Linked DNA regions of Homo sapiens: regions 2 and 3 are each linked to region 1. Evidence: fine-mapped expression QTL. A gene starts in region 1. Each other region holds a variant in brackets. All regions are shown on one strand. Distances are between the middles of the regions. Region 1 holds the start of LINC01352 (long intergenic non-protein coding RNA 1352). Region 2 holds the start of HLX (H2.0 like homeobox). Region 3 overlaps HLX-AS1 (HLX antisense RNA 1).

Region 1 (8,184 bases):
TCATCACACCCAAAGTGTCTGTGACATTTTGCCCTCCCCCAGTCTCACCCTTACCATGTCTCCCACCCTCACCATGAAAATCTCTACAGCTTTTCTCTTCATTTTCAGGATCTGGCAACTTCCTCTCACTTCAAGATTGGGCTTTGGGAGGAAGCCAATATCCTGTGCTAGCTCACCACCTTTTTTGAAACTGGAAGCTTTCAAAGCATTTAATTTCTACCTGACATAGGAAACTCCTAATTGTAAGATTACTCTAAGACATTTCTTTAAAAGGTACAGAAGACTCATTAGCAGTTTTCCAACTTCTCTAACCTGAAAGAAGTATGAGAGGAAAGCACCGACTTGTTATTAATCAAGCTGTGTCTGCCTGGTTTTCTGTGGATGTGTTTTGTTTTTAATAAATGACTGCTGATAGTTGAAATTCAATATACTAGCCATAAAAGAAATGTGACAGGTCATGGGCCAAAAGAAGTTAACTGTAGGAAGTGGAAATTTTGAATAAGACAATGAGATTCAGTGAGTGATAAATATAGTGTATCATGTGAGCTTTTAGTCCCAGAAGAAAATAATTTTATAGACTTAAAGTTATTGATGGTGCCAGATTTCCCTTCCCCTGAGGGAGCATTTCCTAGCCTTTCATCCAAACCTTCCCTTACTCCACACCCTGCACTCCTTTTCCTAATGGGTTTCTGAAGTCCCAGTTAGAGAATGCTGCAGGGTGAACGGAGAGGCGCTGTGTGTCAGCCTAAAAAACAAATCCAGAGAAATCTGCCAAGCATCAAAGTGCTGTTAAAACCTGGATCTGGTCTCTGGTGTGGTCTGTTTGTGTTTTATGTTGCATTTCAAGATGTTTGGAGCAGCCCCTTGGTTCTTGAAGAAGAGGGAAGTAGATGAGATTTCAACTGCACTATTACTCATTCCTTTGTCCTGTGGAGAGCAGAGTTATGGCTACTGTTGCAGAAGGAGGCATGATTATGTTTACTCATATATTTCTTTGTGTTTTTCTTCCTACCAGGCCAGGTGGTCTCAGAAGAGGCAACTGGTTGCCAGGAAGCACAGTCTATGAGACCCAGAAGTAACTCTGGAGATCCTCCAATTACCTCTCACTTTACAGTGAAGGAAACTGAGGCCCAGATGGAGTCAGTAGGTTACTTGAGATCTCACAGTTGCAGAAGTGGACTAAAAGCCAGGTGATCTGATTCCTAAACCAATGGATTTTCCATTACACTGAGAATTCACACATGAAGTGAAGTCCTTTAAGACTTTACTTTAAGACTTTCCTTTAAGTCCTTTAAGACTTTCACCTGTTACATAAGAGTATGTTATTCATCTTGATTTTTTTTTTTTAGATGGAGTTTTGCTCTCGTTGCCCAGGCTGGAATGTAAATAGTGTGATCTCGACATACTGCAACCTCTGCCTCCCAGGTTCAAGCGATTCTCCTGCCTCAGCCTCCCGAGTAGCTGGGATTACAGGCACCTGCCACCACGCCTGGCTAACTTTTTTGTATTTTTAGTAGAGATGGGGTTTCACCACATTGGCCAGGCTGGTCTAAACTCTTAACCTCAGGTGATACACCCACCTCAGCCTCCCAAAGTGCTGGGATTACAGGCATGAGCCACCACGCCCGGGCTTTGATTTTTTTTTTTTTTTTAATGAATTAATGGCCTTGGCTTTCAGAGGTAATGCTTTTATTCCTATTTATTTCTACAGTTTGCTCCTTTAAATTACTCCTTTCTTGGTGGTGGGGAAGTTACTGGGTAGAAATAAGATAGCCTAATTTGAAACAATTAGCCTTAGCTTTTATTTTTTGATGCAAGGGTTTATAAAGCCTAAGTTGAGGAAAAGCTAGAGATGGGGCACAGAGACCTGCCCTTGCTTTCCCAACCCTGAACGACACACAGTCAGTGGGTTGTTCACTCAGTTGTCAGCCTATGTGCTTTCCTAGAGCTGCTGTGATGTGTCAAGTTGTGTACAATGCTGGGCATATGAAACTAGAGTATATGATTTCATTCTTCAGGCAGCTGAGAAGACACAACCCAATGAATCAATTTCTTGCCAGCATGTTACATGCCATAATGGAAGTATACACAGGTGCTGTGGAAGCAAAAAAGAGACACCTAGCCCAGGAGACATTGATTATATCACACTCATTCTCATTTACACATGTGTTGGGTCTTAGTTATCTATTTTACCAGCATTCTACATAATACCAGCTCATGGTAGTTGACAAATAATTGTTAAATGAAAGAATGCATAGCTAAGCATTACTGATTTTGTAAATATAGTCTAGAATGGGAAAGGACCCAGTACTTTGCTTACACCCACAGGTAACCAACCAGCAACCACAGGCCTGAATCTGATGCACCGTCTTCTGCTCGTGCCATGGTTTTTGTTTTTGTTTTTTCTTAATTGAGTCATCTTTACTTAAAAATGCTAATTTCCAGCTTCACTTGTAAGATCAGAATATCTGAAAACACTTTACACTTATTCCAAAATGACTCCAACTGGTTGGAGCTAAGTAGAACTTAGAGCCTATGATGATTAATTTTATGTGTTGATTTGACTGGGCTAAGGGGTGCCCAGATAGCTGGGAAAACAATATCTCTGGGTGTGCCTGTGAGGGCGTTTCTGGAACAGGTGTTAATCAGTAGACTGAGTAAAGAAGATCCACCCTCACCAATGTGAATAGGCATCATCCAGCCCATTGAGGGCTCAAATAAAACAAAAGGCAGAGGAAGGGTGAATTCTGTCTTCCGGAGCTGGGACATCTTCCCTTAGATATCAGAGCTCCTGGTTCTCAAGCCTTTGGACTTTGGGACTTACACCATCAGTTCTCCTTGATCTTATGCCTTTGGATTCAGACTTAATTACGTCACTGGCTTTGCTGTTTCTCCAGCTTGCAGACAGGAGGTGGTGGGTCTTCTAGGACTCCACAATTGCATGAGCCAACTCCCATAATAAATCTCTTTACATATCTATCCAATGGGTTCCATTTCTCTGGAGAATGCTGACTAACACAGATCCCCTTCGATCAAGCACGAGCCCTGAGTTGGCCATGGTCCTACCTGTCATAATGAGAGAACTCTTCTCATTTGTGTTATGGGTCCTGGAGGCATTTGATTATTGGTCTGGTCATTCACAGGAAACCCATGTAGAAACAGCAAGCATACCTAGGAAAACTAGGAGAGAATTCCCAGAGTTCTAAGGGCTTATAGAAGTGCAGTGTCAATGAATGCAGGATTGAACCAAGCTGGAGAGAGGGAGGCTGGCCTGCAGAAGAAGATATCCTTTACTGGTACCTGAATTGGCTCCTGCCAAGTTTATCTCTGCTGATGAGGAAGCTTTGCCTCTAGTTTCTCTCCTGAGAAGGGAGAGTTTCAATCAACCTTGGCTTTTCATAAAGGACTTGGGGCTGCTGGCTGAATAGCCTGTGTGTTGGGGTTCACCCATGGGGATTTTCAAGGAGGCCTGAATCTTCTGATCCATCCAATCTCTCATTTTACACTTGAAGAAACTGAGGCTGAGAAAGGGGAAGTGACTTGGCCAAGGCCACACAGCAAGGTCAAGATCCAAGACTAAAACCAATTGCTTCTCTGTTTTGCTTATTACTACAGCACAGAAATAAAGAAATAGAGAATGGGAGAGGAGAGGTAGGTGTGGGGAGGCGATATGAAAACATGGAACAAGTGCTCTGCTTTTAGAATAACTAGAACTTTGAGCCCAGAAGATTTCTTTTCTTTTAATAAATAAATGTTTTATAATCTTACTTCTGTGGCTGGTGGGAAAAAAAGTCCTTCAAGTCCCCAAGGAATGTTAGGAAAACCTCCATTAAATTCTAGTCTTCAAATCTGAGTCATAATAACTATAATAAACTCTGGGAGTGTTTCCTTAGAGTTTCTCTTTTAGGGTGGAGAGGAGGCAGCAAAAAGAATAGGCAAGTTTTCACAAGAAAAACTTGTAAATAGGCAAGTATAACAAGAAAATGTATAAACCGGGATGGCTTCATAATTAGGCATAGCCTAATTGTGCTTATGTGTCTAGTCAAGAAACTCTATCTAGAGTTCCAGGGGAAGAAGGTGTTGGGGATGAGGGAGTAGGATTGGTTTGAGGGTAGTAGACTATATAAGGCATCATGCTCCTTCCCATGGAGGGGATGTATGATGGTTAATATTAGGTGTCAACTTGATTAGATTGAAGGATGCAAACTATTGTTCCTGGATGTGTCTGTGAGGGTGTTGCCAAAGATATTAACTTTTGAGTCAGTGGACTGGGAGAGGCAGACCCACCCTCAATCTGGGCGGGCACCATCTAATCAGCTGCCAGCACAGCCAGAATAAAAGCACACAGAGGAACATGGAAGGAGTAGACTTGCTGAGTCTTCCAGCCTTCATCATTCTCTCGTGCTGGATACTTCCTGCCCTCGAACAACAGACTCCAAGTTCTTCAGCTTTTGGACTCTTGGATTTACACCAGCAGTTTGCCGGGGGCTCTGGGGCCTTCAGAAGGCTGCACTGTCAGCTTCCCTACTTTTGAGGTTTGGGGACTCGGACTGGCTTCCCTGCTCTTCGGCTTGCAGACAGCCTATTGTGGGACTTCACCTTGTGCTCATGCAAGTCAATACTACTTAATAAGCTCCCCCTCATTTATACATCTATCCTGTTAGTTCTGTCCCTCTAGAGAAACCTGACTAATATAGCATGTGTATGTGCTTTTCCCTTTGCTTGGAATGCTTGTCCCCACTCTGACCCTAAGCACCACCACAACCTTCCTTCCTGGAGCTCAGGCTGTTATCCTCCAGGGCTCTGCTGATTCCCTGGGCACCCCGCACTCTGCTTCACAGCACTCATCACATTTGTCACTTGTGTAATTTGTTGCTTATCCCAGGCTTCCGTATTACATGATAAGCTCCATTAATGACAGTGTTGTCTGCCTTGGTTTTGTTCATGATGAGCACAGTGCCTGGCCCACAGTACCAGCTCACTAAGTATTTAGCAAAGGGCTTTATGAGGTCATCCCTGGCTCCAGCACCTCACAATCTTTATGGTGACTGTTCAGAGGGCAGCTAAGCAGAAAAGAAGTTTTCAACAAGGCTGTTTCTGGCCTGTTTTCCCTCTCAGTACTACATGGCAAGTCACGTCTCCAAACTGAGGAGTGTGCCTGAAGAGTCAGGTCTGGCAGAGAAAGGATTTCTTGCCCTAGGTTTAAACAAGCAATGTCAACATAACTTCCAAAGGCATCGGCTGCTTGGAAGAAGTGAATCCCTTGGGTCATTCCCTTGATTATTGTGAACCCGTGGCTGAGCAGGACAGAAATGTCACACAGGTGGACTGAGAACAAAATGATTTCAGATATGGGAGCCCCAAAGTGGCATCCCAAGGACAAGTGCTCAGAATTGCATGACTTGGTTTTCTGTTGAGCTATTCTGTCTTGGATAATTACAGCATGAGCTCTTGGCCAGTGGTGGGAATTAATTGGTTTTAATTCTCCCGCAAAGATTCTCTTAAGTAAAAGTAAAACATTTGCAAACTGGAGTTCTTTGAGTTATTGGTAACAACTTACTTTGCACCTCATAGCACACTGGTTAATAGCCTCCGCCAAATAACTAATATTTAGGCACTTTGCTAATGTATGCAAAGTGCTTTTAAGTATTATGCTATTAAATCTTCACAACATCACAGGTAGGTATTAGCACCATCTTACCTATTTTATGGATATCCAAACAGAGGTCTTCAAAAGTTAGAAAATCTGCACAGTCACAGAGCCAGTGGAGCCACAGCTGAGGCATGGACAGGCTGCTCTCCTACCACCTGCCAGGCCGCTCTTGCCCAGCTCATGAGGTCCAAAGTTTTCTCAACAAACTGCTTGGTGTCGATGTTGTAACCTGGAGCATTGCCCTGCAGCAGAAAGGCAGGCCTGGACATTCGCATGTCAGCATGGGGCGAAGCTGATAATTTCCAGTTGGGATCCAAGAAAAAGAAAAGCTCTCCACATGCCAACAACATTGTTATGAAGCTCTCTTGACCCAGCTACCCAACAGTGATCTCAAACATTTGGTCTCTCCAGTGTGTGTATGGGGGTGGGGGGCAGCTGGGCGTGTAGCCTTGTACACTTTGCACTTGGAGAGGTAGGGACAGGGGTCTAAATTAAGGGAAACCCTGCCCAGGGGCTGGCTTTGGGAAGCATGCCCAGCAGCCATGTGGAAGTTCACTGCATTACGGTGAATTACACCAGGTGGGGTGAGTACAGGACAAGGAAGTAGAAGTCAGAGCCTGCTTTTCAAAATCACCCTGCAGGCTGTTGTCCCCAGAAGAAGAGATCAACCTCAGGGGAGACCAGAGTCCTAAACACAAAACAAAAGAGTAATAAGGGAGGAAGCAAATGAAGTTGCTTATCTCATTTATTTATTTTTCTCTCCCATTTCCGCCTATGCTCCTCCAACTGAACCCCCCCTAGTCTCTGGTTTCCTGGCCACTATCTGGCCAATAACCTCCACATTAGCATCCCCAGCCCCTCTGTGCCCCCTGTAATCTCTTCTCCAGGCTTTGCTGAGGACTGTATTTACTGCCACACAGGATTTCCGTAGGTGATAACAGCAGGGCCTGGTTGGCTTGACCCTCTGTTCAGAGCCAACCCTTGGCTTCTTATGGTGTCCTCTTACAGCAAGGGAAGAATCTTAGTTTCTCCCAAGAATGTGACTCTCTTTAAGTGTCTTACCTACACTCAACAACTAAGCAAGCCTCTTGATGAGCAGCCCTTCACTCTCACATCCTCAACACTGTGGACTGAGAATTTACATTTTTTTAAAAAGGCAGGGCACAGTGGCTCATGCCTGTAATCCCAGCACTTTGGGAGGCTGAGATGGGAGAATCGTTTGAGGCCACAAGTTTGAGACCAGCCTGGCCAACACAGGGAGACTCCATCTCTACAAAAAAATTTTTAAAAATTAGCCAGGCATGTGCTACTTGGGAGGCTGAGGCGGGAGGATTGCTTGAGCCCAGGAGATCGAGGCTACAGTGAGCTGTGATCACACCACTGCACTGCAGCAGCGTGGGTGACAGAGCAGGACCCTGTCTCTAAAAAAAAGTAAAAGATAAATGTAAAATCAGGTCTGTTCTGCTCTGTATGTGTATGGGTGCCCCACATGGAGAGCCAAGAGACATAAGAGGTGCTGAGGGGAATTTTCCAAGGCGGGTCACCCACTTACAAATCTCTAATCTGGGGACTGGATTGTGGGACGGACCTGCAGAACCCACCCCTCCAGGACTCTGACAGGCATCGTCAATCCAGGTCCCCACAGGAAGGGGACCCTTGATGGCCATTCTCATAGAACATGTCCCCACCCTACCACATTCGCTCACCACAGGCTGCTAGCTTTTCACTCAGAAACATATGTGCCTTACAGGGTGATGTGTTCTGTTTTTTAACTTCCTACTAATGTGTAATGCACATTCAGACAAGTACACAAGTCGCAAGCTCAATACATTTTCACAAAGTGGACAGACTTGGGTCATCAGCACCAGATCAATAACAGAGTATTTCCCATGGCCAGAATCTCTTGTCTGCACCTGGCCCCATCACCGCCCACCTCCTTCCCACCCAGTGTAACCACTGTCCCGACTTTGAGCACCACACATCAGGCTTGCCTCCCAGGGGTCACTCTTTAGAAGCTGATTCCAGAGATGCACAGAAGACTTTACTTTTTCTTCATCAGCAATGCCTGAGGCTGGGGAGGCTTGTGGAGCCTGATCTGGGTGTTCTGTGTTACTTTTAACTGTCAAGATCCCTAACACCTTAACACCACGTAAACCAGAGGAATCATAGGGACAGGATTATCTCAGAGAGAAACACAGCGGTGGGCAGCCGGCCAAGTGTGGAGGAAAGTGAGATGAGATCAACAAGAAGGCATTGTCAAGAGTCAGGAGCTGCAAGAGGTCGGGGCCCCCAGGGACAGACTGCAAAGAAGGCAGGAAACTTAAATATATGCTCATACTTTTACCAAAAGGAGAGAGAAAAGAATTCCAACCCCTTCCTGCAGTCTTCATCCCATCATTGTATCTTTCAATTTCTTCCCCATTCTAGAGACACTATTGTAAGCAAAGCCACACCCTCTACCTCTTTAAACACCCATTGCACAATAGAAATATAATGTGAGACACACATAATTTTTTATTGCAGTAAAAGAT
Region 2 (8,184 bases), 48 kb before region 1:
TACACCGAATGGCCCCTCTAAGGAGGAATTTTACACGACAGTCGGAAGACCTAAAGCGAGCGTGGAGTGGAGAAGCCTGGCGGCTTGTCCTTTAATTCCAAGAGAAAAACATAAACCTCATGCGTGGCCATCAGGCCTACGAAGAGTAGACAAAAATGTCCCTTGGGCCTGAATGATGACAGCCCTGAATTGAATTATCTCGTGTGTGTGTGTGTGTGTGTGTGTGTGTGTGTGTGTGTGTGTGTGTGTGTTTATTCCCGCATGTGTCCAGGCACCCAGACATAAACTCGCCAAGCACAAGTGTTTGAGGTCATCCCAAAATGTGTATATGCTAATAAGCAACATTGATGCTGCATTTTTCAAGCCCTCTGGGGCGAAAAGACTTCGAGAAAGCCCCCCACCCCACCGTCCACGCACACACTTTCTGGGATCTCCAGGCGCCTCTACCCCTTTTCAAGGGGAACCATCCGAAGCGAGCGCTAGCTCGCTGAGAAATCTTTCGGTTTCTCTCTCCTGACTCCGTAGCCTCCCGCCCCAATTGTGAGATTGCGACACCGTGGCAGCCCTGGAGGCGTCAGTCCTGAGATTTCTGACTGTTAGTCGGCTCGCCCGTTAGGCAGTACTCTGGAGTTTTTCCGTACCTGGAAACGTGTCTTGGAACTGATGCTGAACTGAATTTCTTGGGTTCGAGTTTAAGGGACTCAGGATTGCAGAAGCCTCGTTAATGGGATCTAGAGATGCGAAGAACTGGCCGGCCGAGGGCTGCAGGCCTGAGAGGTGCACCCCGGCGGGCCGCCCACCGGTTAGCAGGGAAGTGAGATCTGGGGACAAGGGAAAAGGATAGCAGGTTACATCTCGGGCACACTCACACTCTCCGCTGATTTGTTCCTCCCCTTCCCCTTGCCCTGGATTCACTTTTATTGAGCGAAGTCAAGAGAGAACCCGTCTAGGCGCTGAAACCTCTCTCTCCCAACAGTTGCCAAGGAGCGACGCACGAAAAGTTCCTGTGTGTCCCTCACGTCCATATGCATGTATATAGTAAGTAAAGGCTTTACATAAATCGGCTTACGGCCTCACTTTCACGTGTCTTCCAAGAACGCCACAGACGCAAAACCTCCGCCCCAAGGTGGCCCCACTCTGCCCGCTCATCTAGGCGGTTTTGTTTATTATTTACATTTCCTGGGTGAAATTTTTACTAGAAATCAGATAAGTGCGAAAGTGTTTCCCAAAAATGCTTTAGCTGTCAGAAAATATAATTCTGTCTCTAGATACATTATTAAAGAGATCAAAGTCATGTTAGCAGATAATTACACCAACCACTTTTATAAATATTGATTCTAAGACGTGTTTTTAAAGAATCCCTGGAGTCATTTTTTGTTTGTTTTACATAGAACAGGTGAGTTTTAGACCTAATGTTTTGTAGTTTTCTTACAATTCGTTTTCTTCTCTCCCGTTTTACCGATTTGTCCTTAATTGTAAAAACACTCAAAGGCACCCCAAGCCAGCCCGGGGTCCGGGGAGTGGGTCAGTGGTCAGAGGCCTGCAGCCTCCCGCCCAAGACCTACCTCTCAGCGTGTTGCCTTCTTTGACTTTTGGGTCAAATTCTGCAGATAAAATGCGGTCAATTCCAAATTTGAGGTCTTTGCTGGAGGGGGCCGGGGCAGAGCCACTGTGGTGGGGGTTCGGAACCACTCGCGTCCCCGAGGCCGGGGGCTGCAGGGCGCCAGCCCGGGGCGGAGGCGGAGGCTGTTGCTGCTGCGGCTGTTGCTGCTGCTGTTGTTGTTGCGGGTGATGGTGGTGGTAGGCGGCTGAGAGCGGAGACAGCCGCTGCGGGAAGCCAGCCGGGACTTCGGAGGGCGCCACCACTGGGGTGGGTCGAAGCGGGGATCTGGCCGCCGCTTGGAAAGAGGCGTGCGGGTGAACCGAGCCCAAGTGCGCGGTGAGGGCGGCGGCCGAGGCCCCTGCCAGGCCCTCCGGGGCCGCCCCCAGATCCCCCACGCCGGCGTGCAGAATGTCTGCGATGCAGAAGGAGGGCTTTTTGACGGCGGCGGGGTCCAAGGGGAAGGAGCAGCCGCCTGGGCCGGCCGAGGAGCAGTAAGCGGCCGACCAGAGGCTGAAGTTGGAGGCGTAGAAGGGAGCCAGCCCGGCTGCGAACATCCTGCCGGGGTGAGCCGCGCGGCTGCCGCAGTCCAGCCGGACTGGGTGGGTGGGCGCGCGGGGAGGGGCGCGCGAGTCCCGGAGAAGGCGGCGGCAGCCGAGGACGATCCGCTTTCGCTTCTCCGCCCGCACTGAGGAAGAGAGGCCGGGAGCCCTAGCGCCACCGAGGGAGGAGGCGAGGGCCGGATCTCGGCCGGTCACCGCCTCGCTCCCTGGCCTCGCTTTAAAGGCGGCGCGGCGCCCGCACTCCTCGCGGGCTGGATGAGAGCGAGGGGCGCTGGGGCCGCAGGGCGGGCGGGGGAGCCAGGGAGACGGGAGCCGGACACCGCAAGAAAACCCAAATAGCTAAGCCCTAAGAGCTAAATTTAAAACAACAACAATAATAGTCCGTTAGTTAGGGGGGGGGAAAAGTAATAGAAAAAAAAAAAAACTCGTCTCTAAAAACTCCCAAAGTTTTGGCAGGAGCTTTCGAGTCAGGCCCGGGGTAGGACCTCGATCCGAGCGCTCATTGGTCATCCTCGTGACCAATGGGAGCGGGGAGTGGAGGGGAATTAGGAACAAGGGGGCCTGGCCGGACCCTAGCCACGCCCCGGCCACGCCAAAGTTTTTGCTGCGGCCGCGTGGGCTTAGTAGCGCACATCGCAGTGCTTCTTGCTACTCTGCGTAGGGGCCAGGCAGCCGCTCCGGAGGGCTCTGACTCTCTTCTAACTTCTGCAGCTCCGAACCGCCACGGGGCAAGGAGGGTTGATCACAGGAGCTTTCCTGAAGCGCTTGTCACCCGGGGCGAGTTGGGGGCGTGGGGAAGGGACGGTAATCTCACTCTTTAGGGCTCTGCAAAGCCCGCCTCCCGGTGGAGAGCGGAGCGCGCTTTGGCCCCTTTGCTTCCCTTCTCTTGACCTCATTCTGCTTTTATTCCAGGAGTCCGTGTCCTCGGCAAAGCCCCTCATCTTTCCTGGGCCCTTGCCCAAATGTTGCCGCCCTGAGTCCCGGCCCAACTCAGCACCGCGTCCGCCTCGTGCCTCCCAGGAGATCCTCCGGGAAGCGAGGAGGAGGGGCGGCCGCAAATTGGTTTTATTCTGAGCTGTCACACAGTGACAAATTGAACGAGTGACTTTTCAAACAAAATAAGACGGATGGCTCCAAACGTCTCTCTTAGACGCAGCCAAACCTTTCCCCGGAGCCTCAGAGGCTACAAAACAGGCTGCCTCCCGAAACCCGGGAGAGCGGCACGCGCTTCCATCCTTTGCAGGAGGTTGTAGGAAATGTTAGCCTCACCCCTCCACCACATCTCCGGATCACGTGGGGTTCGTTGTTTTGCAAGTGCCCACAAGAGCAGATTTCCGTGGGGTTCAATACTGCTTTCAATTCTGTGACAGCTTCCCCAGGAACCCCTTGGGCCTGGTTGCA[G/A]GAGGAGCTGCGTGGTGGTCAACGTCTTCCATTCGTGCCTTGGGTCTTTAGAACGCAGGGTAGTGGTGGTGGAGGTTTTGTGCAACATCGACATATCTATTTTAAGAATTTCTTCTCTTTAAATTATAGTCAGAATGAATTTCCCCACCCCTCTCCCAAACAAACCACAGGCCACCCAGATGAGCTGTTCTTGCACATTTTCAGGAAGAAAATAAAATAATACGAATAATGAAACCACGAAAACTTTTGTTTTCGATTGCCCTAATAAGCATCTCCTAACAGGGATTCTGTGACATTTTTATTTCCCTTCAGCACGAAGGCTCCTCACCAAATAAACCCAGAAAAGCAAGTGAACTTGCCATGCCTATCTCGAGTTCAGGGTTTGGGCTTATAAAATTAATTTCTGGTGTTTTCTCTAGCCCCTTGATGCAGATGCTATCCTTTTAAGCTTTTGACTTTCTCCTGGAAAATTATCAATCACTTCTGATCAGCCAGCACTAAGATCTCTCCCTCTCCCTCTCTCTCTCCCTCCTCCCGCCCTCCAGCTCTCCCGCTCTCGCTCTCCATCTCTCTTTTACTGAAAGGTTTTCTTCCCCTGCTCCACGCAACCAGGAGAGAGGTGCTATTTCCAGAGATAGATGGGTGTGTTTGGCTGAAGGTAGGGGTACCTGGGGCGAGAGACGTATTAAGACCAGTTTTTCTGTGTCAAGGTGAAGGCAAAGGAGCGACAAGTACAACATGGGCAATTGAGGCGCTGGCTGAGGGTTCTGGTGAGCCTTCGGTGGGAGTGTGCGTAGCGGAGGCCGTGAGCCCTCTGCTTTCTAGTGCCACTTCCAGTTTGATTGCGTTTCTAATTTGACTGCAAACATTTAGACCTCAGCCTAAGCCCAAACTCACGGTTGTGAAAGAGGTGCATTTACTCCTTACCCGAGGCAGCGCCGCGCGCCCTCACCCTCTCTCTTAAGAAATAAGACTCCCCTATCAGCTTTCACCCTTTCCAAGGTTTGCGACGCTCCGGGGTGGGCACGGGATACAGACCCGGGGGAATGCGAGTCCTCAGGGTTCCCTAGGTGCCCACAACTCGCATCTGCCGAGATTCAAGGCCCGGAGCGCTGGGCAGATGCGGCGAAAGCGAGGCCCCGAGGCCCGCCGACTCCTCGCGGCGCCGCGAGCCTCCCTTTCTCCGCCAGGCCCGCGGCTGGAGTGCAAGTTGCAACTTCGCCTGCGCGCCCCTTGCTCTCCCAGGCCTCAGCTTCCTCGCAACCGCGTCGGCGCCATCCAAGGCCTTACTCCCAGCTCCCGGAGGCAAACGCGAAATACAAGTCTTTGGAGCGACCCCCGCCGCCCCCTCTACCCCTTCCCCAGGCCCAAGCCTGGCCCCTGCAGGCCCCTCGCCGAGTTCTGAGCCCGCAGACTCCCGCCCTCCTTACTCCCCACTCTTCAGAACCAAGAAAGCAGCAGGAAACCCTGGGCTCGCCGGAGTTCAGGTCATCTCCTGTTTTTTGATGGGCTCAAACTCGGGACTAAATGAGCGGATGTGCCTGCGAGATTGGTCTCAAAATAGAAGCGGCCTTAGTATTTTAGGATACTGCAGAAATCCTTATTTCTTCCGGAGAAAAACTCTATAATGACTCCTAGCACTTCCCCTTTCAATATTTGTGCAACTTTATCTCCACCGGCAAGTTGCTCGGGTGACGCAAATCCGCCCTTATGTATTACAACTACCAAAATAAATGCACGGAAATCAATTCCCTTCTAGCAATGAAAATATAAATATACAGCTGCGACTTTCCCCTTTAATCTTTGCTTTCCGAGAGGCTCCGGGCTGTGGCGAAATGAACTGGCCCAGAGCTACTGAGCCGGGCAGGGAGGTCCTGGGGGTAGAGGCGAGGGCTCCCCAGGGGCTGGTAGCCATGGGGGTTGAGAATTTAACAGGAAAGAAAAGGGCCTGGCTAAACCGAATTAACTTGAGCTTGGTCTACGCAGCGGAGACCCTAACTGTGGCCTCTTTTCTTTGGAAAATATCGCATTGGCTGGGGTTTCTGATCATGCTGACTGCTGTTTTTAATGCTTTCAACTCATCCCTTCACTTTTCCTAGTTAAACACAGCCAAAGACGATTTCACCATATTGGGAATGGATAAGATCAGAGAAGGTTCGTTTTATAATTTAACAATATAGCTTATGGGGATTTAGGGTTTAAAAGGGTCCTGAATCAGGGGCTTATGCAATGACTGAGGCAAGAGATGGGTTTCACCATCCTTTGGTTCTACCTGTCTTTGGAGCCTCCATATTTAAATCATCAGTGCAGACTTTTGTCCCAAAACCAGAGTCACAGATCCACACTGAGCACAGGTCAATTATAGTGAATGCTGGGCCTTGTATATTACAGGACCATAACTCTTCAAGGACTTGAACTGGCTATATCTGCTATCTGTGTTGCTTTTTCTTGTGCATTCTGGGTAAAATAATGTGCAAGGCAGTTGCTCTGTGGACTTCGGAACCCCTCTCCTCTTAATTTCAAATATTCTTGCAAACATGGTACCTACTGGCTTCAAGAAAAGAGATGTAAATAATTAAATATTTACAATCAGAAAGAAAAAGAAACACAGCTTATCCAGCTACTTGAGAATTCAAGAAATTTGCAGCAACGTAGGAATCTGTGTATATTGTGCCTGTCTTTCTGCCAGCTGGAGACTTATGGATCACTGGTCCCAGCAGTCATACTTAGTGGTGGATATGGGAGTTCTGTTCTTTGTGGGTGCCAGATACTAGAGATTAGGACTCTAATGATCCCCCATAGACACACCCCCTACCCACACACGCATACTTTGGCCTATTCTAAGTAGGACACAACTCTCTTTCCTTGGAGACCTTAGAGTTATTCCAGAATTTCTGAGTTTTTGAGAAGAATTGGACTTTGCTATGGGGTGGGAAAAGCAAATAATGCAATAGGGCTACAAACATCCATAGCTATTTGATTTATTCTTTTTCCTTTTCTCCATTTCCCAGATGTGGCAGATTTGCAGGTGGCCAGCTCTCTATTTGGCTGTGGCCCTGCCCTTGAACTTTATCCATAGGTCTTGCTCCAAAGTTTCAGACAGCCTTTTGGCTCTGATTCCATTTGCCCTTTCCTCTCATAGGGCTTCTCACATATTTCCCTTCCTCACTACTAAGATATACCACTTTACATATATGTACCTCTCTCTCTCTCTCACACACACACACACACACACACACACACTCTCTCTCTCTCTCTCTCTCTCTCTGGGAATCTTAGAAATGTGGAGGGGAGGGGAGGCAGGCAGTTTGGGATTTGCTCCTGTTTCAAAGAGCTGCTTCTCTGCCTCTCCAAGTCATCCTCTCTACATCCAGCCAAGAAAGACCCCAAATCTCATAAAACCTATGGCAGAACCCATTTCAACATGGCACATTATAACAGACTCATATACATTTGCAATGAAATCATAAGAGTAAAATATGAGAGACTATCTGTAGCATATATGAGCTTACATACTTCATTGCACGGGCTTCTATTTAGTAGCTGTAAACAGTGCTCTCCCACTTCCCATACATTAGCCACTCACCTTGGATTTGTTGCCTGAATTATTGAATCTGAATGGCTGGTTGTTAAGGTAGGAGAAGGAGGAGTAGGTGAAAAACATATATCCAAAACAGACAGGGATGAAAGGCATTCCCAAAGCAGTATTTCTCTAAACAAACAAATAAACCTTCTTCCCTGTGAGACAGGTTTTCAAGTTAGAGCACAGGTTCTAGGGCCAGAAGAGGGACTCAGGCCCAGACTAAAAAACAGTCATGGGAAGGGATCTTCTGAAGGGAGAGGATCCTGGAGCCAATGAGAGGGATTTTGCAGATAAAGCCAATGGGTTGTTGTCCCCATCTCAGTGGTCCCAATCTGCCTACCAGCACCCGCCAGAACTGGGACAGCCCTGGATTTAATGACGGAGTCCCCCCAGCCCTGTCCCAGCCCACCAGGCCCGGGCATCTCCCTCCCTGGAGGAGCCCACCTAGTACTGAAAGTTGGTTCTCTGCTGACACCTGCTGGACCATCTCTACATTGTTTTATGGCAGTAACCATCCTGTGCCAGCAACATTGTTATGATGAAAGTTGACTCTTCCTTTTGCAAAAATGCAGGTTTCTAAAACTGGCTTTGACTAGCAGCTGTTTCCTTCCATATTGCAACAATATGGGAAGATCTTGTATTGTGTGCTTAAAATCACTAGACCGGGCAAGGGAAGCAGTCATGGTTCAGGAATAATACTGTGTACATTTTACAGATCTCAAGGTCAATTCACATTTATTATCTCACTTTTTTAAAATAACCAACTGTAGGATGCCGACGAGGGATTATTATCCCATTTGACTTTAGGAAGTTGATCCTCAGAAAGGTTAAGTGGCTTGCCCAAGGTGACGTAGTTGGGAAATGGTGTTGGAGGGAACAGAGGCTAGGTTTTCTGGTTCATCAACCGGTATTATACCATCCAGCCAATTTCTTCAGGGGAAATGGTTTATTCAGAGGAAAAACTCTCTGCCCTTAATCAGAATGTGTATTGATTTCAAACAAGGAGCTGTAGAAAAGAAGTATGTCTAACTCAGACA
Region 3 (8,184 bases), 19 kb before region 1:
GGATAAAGCAGAGGAAAGAATCAGTAACCTCAAAGACAGGCTATTTGAAAAAACAGGAGAAGAAAAACAAATGAAAGGAAGGAAAATCATCTATAAGTTATAGAAAATTATCTCAAAAGGCCAAATCTAAAAATTATTTGTGTTCAAGAGGGAGCTGAGCAAGAAGAGGTAGAAAGCTTATTCAAAGAAATAATAATAGAAAATTTTTCAAAACTTAAGAGATAAATATCCAGGTACCAGAAGATCAGAGAACACCAAAGAGATTCTACTTGAGCAAGACTACTCAAAGCCACATAATAATCAAACTGTCAAGGTCAAGGAGAAAATCCTAAAAACCACAAGAGAAAAGAAACAAATAGCATATAAAGAGTCTTCAATTCCTCAGGCAATAGACTTCTCAATGGAAACCATATAGGCCAGGAGGACGTAAGATATGTTCAGAGTGCTCAAAGAAAAATACTGTCATCCAAGAATATTGTATCTAGCAAACATAACTTTCACATATGAAGGAGAAATAAAAGTCTTTCCCACACAAACAAAATGGAAATAATTCATAATCAATAAATTCATCTTACAATAAATGTTAAAGGGAGGCTGGGCACGGTGGCTTATGCCTGTAATCCCAGCACTTTGGGAGGCCAAGGTGGGCAGATCACAAGGTCAGGAGATCGAGACCATCCTGGCCAACATGGTGAAAACCCGTCTCTACTAAAAAGACAAAAATTAGCGGGGTGTGGTGGTGCACACCTGTAGTCCCAGCTACTCAGGAGGCTGAGGCAGGAGAATCACTTGAACCCAGGAGGCAGAGGTTGCAGTGAGCCGAGATCACACCACTGCACTCCAGGTTGGGCAACAAGAGCGAAACTCTGTCTCAAAGAAAAAAGAAAGAAATGGTAAAGGGACCTCTTCAAACAAGCTGAAAGAACAAAAAACACTGAAGTCCAAAAAGGAAACATTTGAAGGTATAAAATCCACTGGTAAAATTAAGGACACAGACAAACCCAGAATACCCTACTACTGTAATTTGGTGTGCAATCCACTCATAGCTCTCGTATGAAGCCTAAAAGACAAATATATCAAAAATAATAATATCTACAGCAACCTGTTAAGAGATAGGCAACATAAGAATATGTAAATGAAGACAACATAAAGTCAAAATATAGACGTCCCCACATTTGCAGTTAACATATTAGAGAGTTTTTTCATTTTTTCTTGATTTGTTTGTTTCTATTCTTTTCTTTGTAATCTAAGTTATCATCTCTTTAAAATAACTTGTTATGTCTATAAGATGATTTTTGTAAGCCTCATGATAACCACATGTGAAAACCTATAATAGATCCACTTTTTGAAAAAAGCAACAAATTAAAACATACTACCAGAGAAAATAACCAATAATGAAGACAATAAGAAAGAGAAAAGCCACAAAACAACCAGAAAATAAGCAACAAAATGGCACTAGTAAGTCCTTACTGCCCAATAAAAATACTGACTTAAATAGACTCAAATTCTCCAATTAAAAGCCATAAAGTGGCTAAATGGATAAAGAAACATGACCCAAATTTGTGCTACCTGCAGGAAACCCACTTCACCTATAATGACATGCATAGACTGAAAGTGAAAGAGTGAAAAAAAATATTGCATGCTACTGGACACCAAAACAGAACAGGAATAGGTATACTTACATCATGCAAAACAGACTACAAGTCCACGAGACAAAGAAGGTCACCATATATGGTAAAAGAGACAATTCAGCAAGAGAATATAAACTGAAAATCTATGTATGATAAAGGAGACAGTTCACCAAGAGAATATATGCATGCACCCAACATAGGAGCTCCCAAGTATATAAAGCAAACATTAATAGATCTAAAGGGAGAGATAGATTTCAACACAATAATAGTATACAACTTCAACAACCCACTCTCAGTAATGGAGATATCATTAACAGAAAATCAACAAAGAAAATCAGAGTTAAACTACAAACTAGACAAATAAGCCTGACAATAACAGATCATTTAACCCAATGACTGCAGGATTCACATTCTTTTCATCAGCACAGGGGAGATTCTGAAGAACAGACTGTATCTTGGGCTACAAAAACATATCTTAGGCTACAAAACAAGTCTCAACAAATTCAAAAAAGTAGAAATCATATCAAGTATTTTTTCTTATCTCAATGAAATAAAACTAGAAATTAATAATAAAAGGAACCTCAGTAAATGCACAAACACATTAAAATTAAACAACGTGCTCTTGAAGAACCAAAGGGTCAATTACAAAATTTTTAAATTTCTTGAAACAATGAAAATGGAAATATAACATATCAAAATATGGGATGCAGCAAAAGCAATAGTAAGAAGGAATTTTATAGCAATGAAAGCCTATGTCAAAAAAGCAGAAAGACTTCAAATAAATAACCTAACAATGCACCTCAAAGAACTAGAAATGCAAGAGCAAACCAAACTCAAGATTAATAGAAGGGAAAAAATACTAAAGATCAGAGTAAAAATAAATGAAATTGAGACTAAAAAAATACAGAAGATAAACAAAATTAAAAGTCTATTTTTTGAAAAGATAAAAATGACAAATCTTTAGCCAGACTAAGGAAAAACAAAAGACTCAAATAAATAAAATTATAAATGAAAAAGGAGACATGATAGCTGAGAACACAGAAATACAAAGACCATTAGAGATTATTATGAACAACCACAGAGCAATGAATTGGAAAACCTAGAAGAACTGGATAAATTCCTGGACACATAAAACCTACTAAGATCGAACCATGAAGAAAGAGAAAACCTCAGCAAACTAATAACAAGTGATGAGATAGAGGGCTTAATAAAAAAGTCTCCCAACAAAGAAAAGCCCAGGCTAGGCGTGGTGGCTTATGCATGTCATCCCAGCACTTTGGGAGGCCAAGGCAGGAGGATCATTTAAGGCCAAGAGTTCAAGACCAGCATGCACAACACAGCAAGAACCCGTCTCTACAAAACATAAAAATAAAAAAAAAAAGTAGCTGGGTTTGGTGGTGCATGCCTGTAGTCCTAGCTACTTGGGAAGCTGAGACAGGCGGATCACTTCAGCCAAGGAATTCGAGGCTGCAGTGAGCTATAATCACAACACTGCACTCCAGCCTGGGCAAAAGAGCAAGGATTTGCCTCTATTAAAAAAAATGTTTTTTAAAAAAGCCATGACCTGATGGCTTTACTACCAAACTCAACCAAACATTTAAAGAAAAACTAATACCAAACATTCTATTCAAATTCTTCCAAAAAAAGTTGAAGAGGAGGGAATCCTTCTAAACTCATTATGTGAGGCCAGCATTACCCTGATACTAAAATGATACTAAAATCAGACAAGGACACAAAAAGAAAGAAAACTGTAGACTAATATTACTGATAAAAATAGATGCAAAAATTCTTAACAAAAACCACCAAACTGAATTCAGCAACTCATCAAAAAGAACATTCACTGTGATCAAGTGGGAGTCATCCCAGTGATAGAAGAACGGTTCCACACATGCAAATCAATAAATATGATACATCACATTAACAGAACCAAGGACTAAAACCATATAGTCATTTCAATAGATGCTGAAAAAGTAATAAAATTC[A/G]GCATACTTTCATGAGGAAAAAACCCACAAACTGGGTATAGAAGGAACATATTTCAAAGTAATTAAGGTCACATTGACAAATCCACAGCTAACTGATCATACTGAACAGGGAAAAATTGAAAGCCGTTCCTCTAAGATCTGCAACAAGTCAAGGATGCCAACTTCAAGTCAAGGATGCCAACTTTCACCACTTTTATTCAACGTAGTACTGGAAATCCTGGCCAGAGCGATCAGGCAAAAAAGAAATATAAATCATATTTAAATTGAGAGAAAGAAGTCACATTAGCCTTGTTCACAGTTGACATGATCTTATACTTAGAAAATCCTAAAGACTCCACCAAAAAAGGATTAGAACTAATAAACAAATTCAGTAAAGTTGCAGGATACAAAATCAACATACAAAAATCAGTAGCACTTATATACCCCAGAAGTCAAGAAAGTAATTCCATTTACAATAGCTACAAAGAATATAAAATACTTAAGACTCAATCTAATCAAAGAAGTAAAGATCTCTACAAGAAAAACTATAAAATACTGAAGAAATAAATGGAAAAGGAAATGCAAAAATGGAAAGACATTCCAGTTTATGGGTTGGAAGAATTAGTATTGTTAAAATGACTATTCTACTCAAAGCAATTTACCGATTCAATGCAATCCCTATCAAAATACCAATGACGTTTTTCACAAAAATAGAAAAAAGAATCCTAAAATTTATATGGACCCACAGAAGACCCCCAATACCCAAAGCAATCCTGAGTGAAAAAAAGAAAGCTGGAAGCATCACACTACCTGATTTCAAAATATGCTACAAAGCTATAGTAAGTAAATCATCATGGTATTGGCATAAAAACAGATATGTAGACCAATGGAACACAATAAAGAACCTAGATATAAATTCATGCATTTATGGCCAACTCATTTTCAACAAAGTTGCCCAGAACATGCAATGAGGCAAGGACAATTTCTTCAATATATGGTTCTGGGAAAACTGAATAACCATATGTAGAAGAAAAAAACTAGAGCCCTATCTCTCCTCATATACAAAACTCAAACAAAATGCATTAAAGATTTAAATCTAAGACTTGAAACTATAAAACTACTCAAAGAAAATATTGGGGAAATGCCCAATGGCATTGGCCTGGGCAAAGATTACTTGTGTAAGACCTCAAAAGCACAGGCAACTAAAACAAAAATCAACAAATAGGATTATCAAGCTAAAAGGCTTCTGCACAGCAAAGGAAATAATCAACAAAGTGAAGACATAACCCATAGAATGGGAGAAAATATTTGCAAACTATCCATCTGACAAGGGATTGAATAGCCAGAATATATAAAGACCTCAAACAACACAGTAGCAAAAAAACAAATAATCCAATTTTTAAATGGGTAAAAGACCTAAACACAAATATCTCAAAAGAAAACATACAAATGGCTAACAGGTATATGAAAAAATGCTTAACATCACTAATTATCAGAGAAATGCAAACCAAAACCACAATATGATATCATCTCACCCCAGTTAAAATGGCTTTTATCAAAAATACGAGGAATAATGAATGCTAGCAAGGATATGGAGAAATGGGAATTTCGTACACTGTGTTTGGGAATGTAAATTAGTACAGCCAGTATAACAATTGTATTGAGTTTCCTCAAAAAACTAAAAATAGAACTACCATATGATACAGCAATTCCACTACTGGGTATATATCTAAAAGAAATGAAATCAGTATATTGAAGAGATGTTTGCACTCTTATGTCTATTGCAGCATTATTCACAATAACCAAAATATGGAATCAACATAAGTGCCCATCAGTGAATGAATGGATAAAAAAATGTGGTATATATAAACAGTGGAATGCTATTCAGCCATAAAAAGATGAAATTCTGTCATTTGCAGCAACATGGATGGAAGGTCATTATGTGAAGTGAAGTGAAGTAAGTCAAGCACAGAAAGACAAATATCACATGTTCTCATTCATATGTGGGAGCAAAAACAGTGAATTTCATGAAGATAGAGAGTAAATTGGTGATTAGCAGATGCTGGGAAAGGTAGTGAGTAGGAGCAGATGAAGAGAGGTTGATTAATGAGTATAAATATGCAGTTTGACATAGGAAATAAGACCTAGTGTTTGATAGGTGAGTAGTACGACTACAGTTTACAGTACCCCATTATATATTTCAAATAGCTAGAAGAGAATAATCTGAATGTTATTAGCATAAAGAAAAGACAAATATTTGAGGTGATGGATACCCTAATTACAATGATTTGGTCTTTACAAATTATATTAAGGTATTACATTACCACATGTACATCCATATGTATATCCATTATGTATCCATAAAAAATAAAATATTTTTTAAAAGAAGGTGGAAGACCTAGATTCCTTTTCATTTAAGTAAGGAAAAATAAACAGTTGGGAATGTTTCACCTGATAAGAGAAGTGAAAACTATGCACATGTGTAATGGCCCATCCTTCTTCACCGTATATTTGAAAATGTGTCCTGTATGAAAAAGAGTACCGTGATTCAGGTTTTAAGATTGGGGGAGTAGAGACAAGGAGTAAGGTAACCATTAACGGAGCGAATGAGAGAAAGACAATATGAAAGCAGGTTTTAGTCCAGTAAATTTAAAAAAAAATTTTTTAACACTAAAATGAACTTCTTCTGTGATTTTCCTGTCACAAAAAGATATTTAATGGTAATAATAGCAGCTAAATAGTAATTATTCTGGTACAAGCACTGCATCAAATCCTTTACTTGTGTTGTAATTTAATCCTAGCAATATTTTATGCAAAACACACCAGAAATCATCTTTACTGATACTTATTTATTTTTATTTTTGGAGATGGAGTCTCATTCTGTTGCCCGGGCTGGAATGCAGTGGTATAATCTCAGCTCACTGAAGCCTCCATCTCCCAGGTTCCAGCGATTCTCCTGCCTCAGCCTCCTGAGTAGCTGGGATTACAGGCATGCACCACCACATACAGCTAATTTTTGTATTTTTAGTGGAAGTGGTGTTTCACCATGTTGGCCAGGCTGGTCTCGATCTTCTGACCTCGTGATCTGCCCACCTTGGCCTCCCAAAGTGCTGGGATTACAGGCATGAGCCACCACACCTGGCCAATACTTTATTTAAATAAATATTTGACAACATCTATCCAGTTTAATGTATTCTACAAAAGAAATCCCAAGGACACACAATATTTTCCTTTTAAAATGGTTTAATATATGTGCACATAATATTTTCTATTTTTTCTTTTTTAACTTTATTAATTTTGTTTTTGCTATTATTCTTAAGTTGAATGCTTTCATTATTTTTCAATCTTTTATTTTCTAAGAAAAATGCATTTTAAAACTGCAAAATTTCTTCTGAGTATTGCTTTGATTATGTCCCATTTATTTTGATAAGAGTTCTCATAATTTATTTCTAAATAGTTTTGCTTTGCTTTTATACCCAAGAACATAGAGGGATATTTTATACTTCCAAGTGGACAGATTTATATGTGTGTGTTTATGTGGCTAGCACTTTCATTAATTTCCATTTTTATTGCTTTGCACTAGGAGAATGCAACTTGCATGACCCTGTTTACTTTGGAATTTGTTGATATTTTCTCTGTGGCTCAACATATGAACTGATTTTGTAAATTTCTGTATGTTTTTTAAAATGTGTTGTCTTTTTGAATACCAACTTTTACATATATCTATGAGATATGTGTATGTTATTCAAATGCTATTACTATATAATACCTTCTTTTTGTGTAGTCTTATTTTTTATGCATCATTAGGTTCTCCTTATATTTCTATCAGTTTTGTATATTTCGAAGTTGTTAGATTCATGAAGTTAAGTGACTTCTTAGTTAACTGTCCTTTTTTTTTTTTTTTGAGATGGAGTTTCACTCGTGTTGCCCAGGCTGTAGTTCAGTGGTGCCATCTCAGCTCACTGCAACCTCCGCCTCCCAAGTTCAAGTGATTCTCCTGCCATGGCCTCCTGAGTAGCTGGGATTACAGGTGCCCACCATGCCTGGCTAATTTTTGTTTTTTTAGTAGAGACAGGGTTTCACCATGTTGGCCAGGCTAGTCTTGAACTCCTGACCTCGTGATCCTCCTGCCTCAGCCTCCCAAAGTGCTGGAACTACAGGCGTGAGCCAGCACATCCAGCCATGAAGTATACTTTTAATCAATATAAATATGTCTCATTTTTCCTTTTATGCATTTGGCCTTAAATTCCATTTTATTTTATATTGATACTCTAAAATTAGCTTATTTAAACTTAATTTTAAATTTTTGAATAGTGTTATATTCACAGAGTTCAACCTTGAAAATGTACAAAAGCATATCTAAAGAAGTAGGCTCTTCACTCTGGTATCCCCCAGACACAGAATTTCCCTCCCAAGACACAGTGTTATCTGTATGTTGAATATATATCTGGATTGGGGTTTGGGCAGGGAAAGCAGGCATGTGCTTGAGCCACCATCTTGATTCAGACTGTGAATATTATTCCAGTGGTGTGAATATAGCTAGAATACGTTCTCTTGCATCAGCCTAGAGTTGCAAATTCACATGTTGGGCC

The links. PIP is the estimated chance that this variant, and not a neighbour inherited with it, causes the effect.
Region 2: its variant is fine-mapped to the expression of LINC01352 in fibroblasts (GTEx, PIP 0.95).
Region 3: its variant is fine-mapped to the expression of LINC01352 in transverse colon (GTEx, PIP 0.99).

Annotation. Positions count from the first base shown.
Region 1 is chr1:220,826,024-220,834,207 of GRCh38, reverse strand. LINC01352 (long intergenic non-protein coding RNA 1352) reads right to left here and starts at 4,953. Exons shown (of 4, transcript NR_110797.1): 1 at 4,766-4,953; 2 at 3,301-3,515; 3 at 2,825-3,066; 4 at 1,779-2,095. It overlaps HLX-AS1 (HLX antisense RNA 1), which reads left to right. Exons shown (of 3, transcript NR_046901.1): 2 at 1,016-1,190; 3 at 1,350-1,445. It also overlaps the pseudogene RNU6ATAC35P.
Region 2 is chr1:220,873,831-220,882,014 of GRCh38, reverse strand. It overlaps HLX (H2.0 like homeobox), which reads right to left and starts at 2,572. Exons shown (of 4, transcript NM_021958.4): 1 at 1,566-2,572; 2 at 642-821. The coding sequence starts at 2,157. It overlaps HLX-AS1 (HLX antisense RNA 1), which reads left to right and starts at 1,875. Exons shown (of 3, transcript NR_046901.1): 1 at 1,875-2,166. RefSeq lists an enhancer at 1,239-1,847 and a silencer at 2,966-3,015. The variant G/A (reference allele first, on the strand shown) is at 3,565.
Region 3 is chr1:220,844,864-220,853,047 of GRCh38, reverse strand. All of the region lies in intron 1 of HLX-AS1 (HLX antisense RNA 1), which reads left to right. Among named protein-coding and RNA genes, the nearest start is that of LINC01352, 20 kb to the right of the region's middle. The variant A/G (reference allele first, on the strand shown) is at 3,614.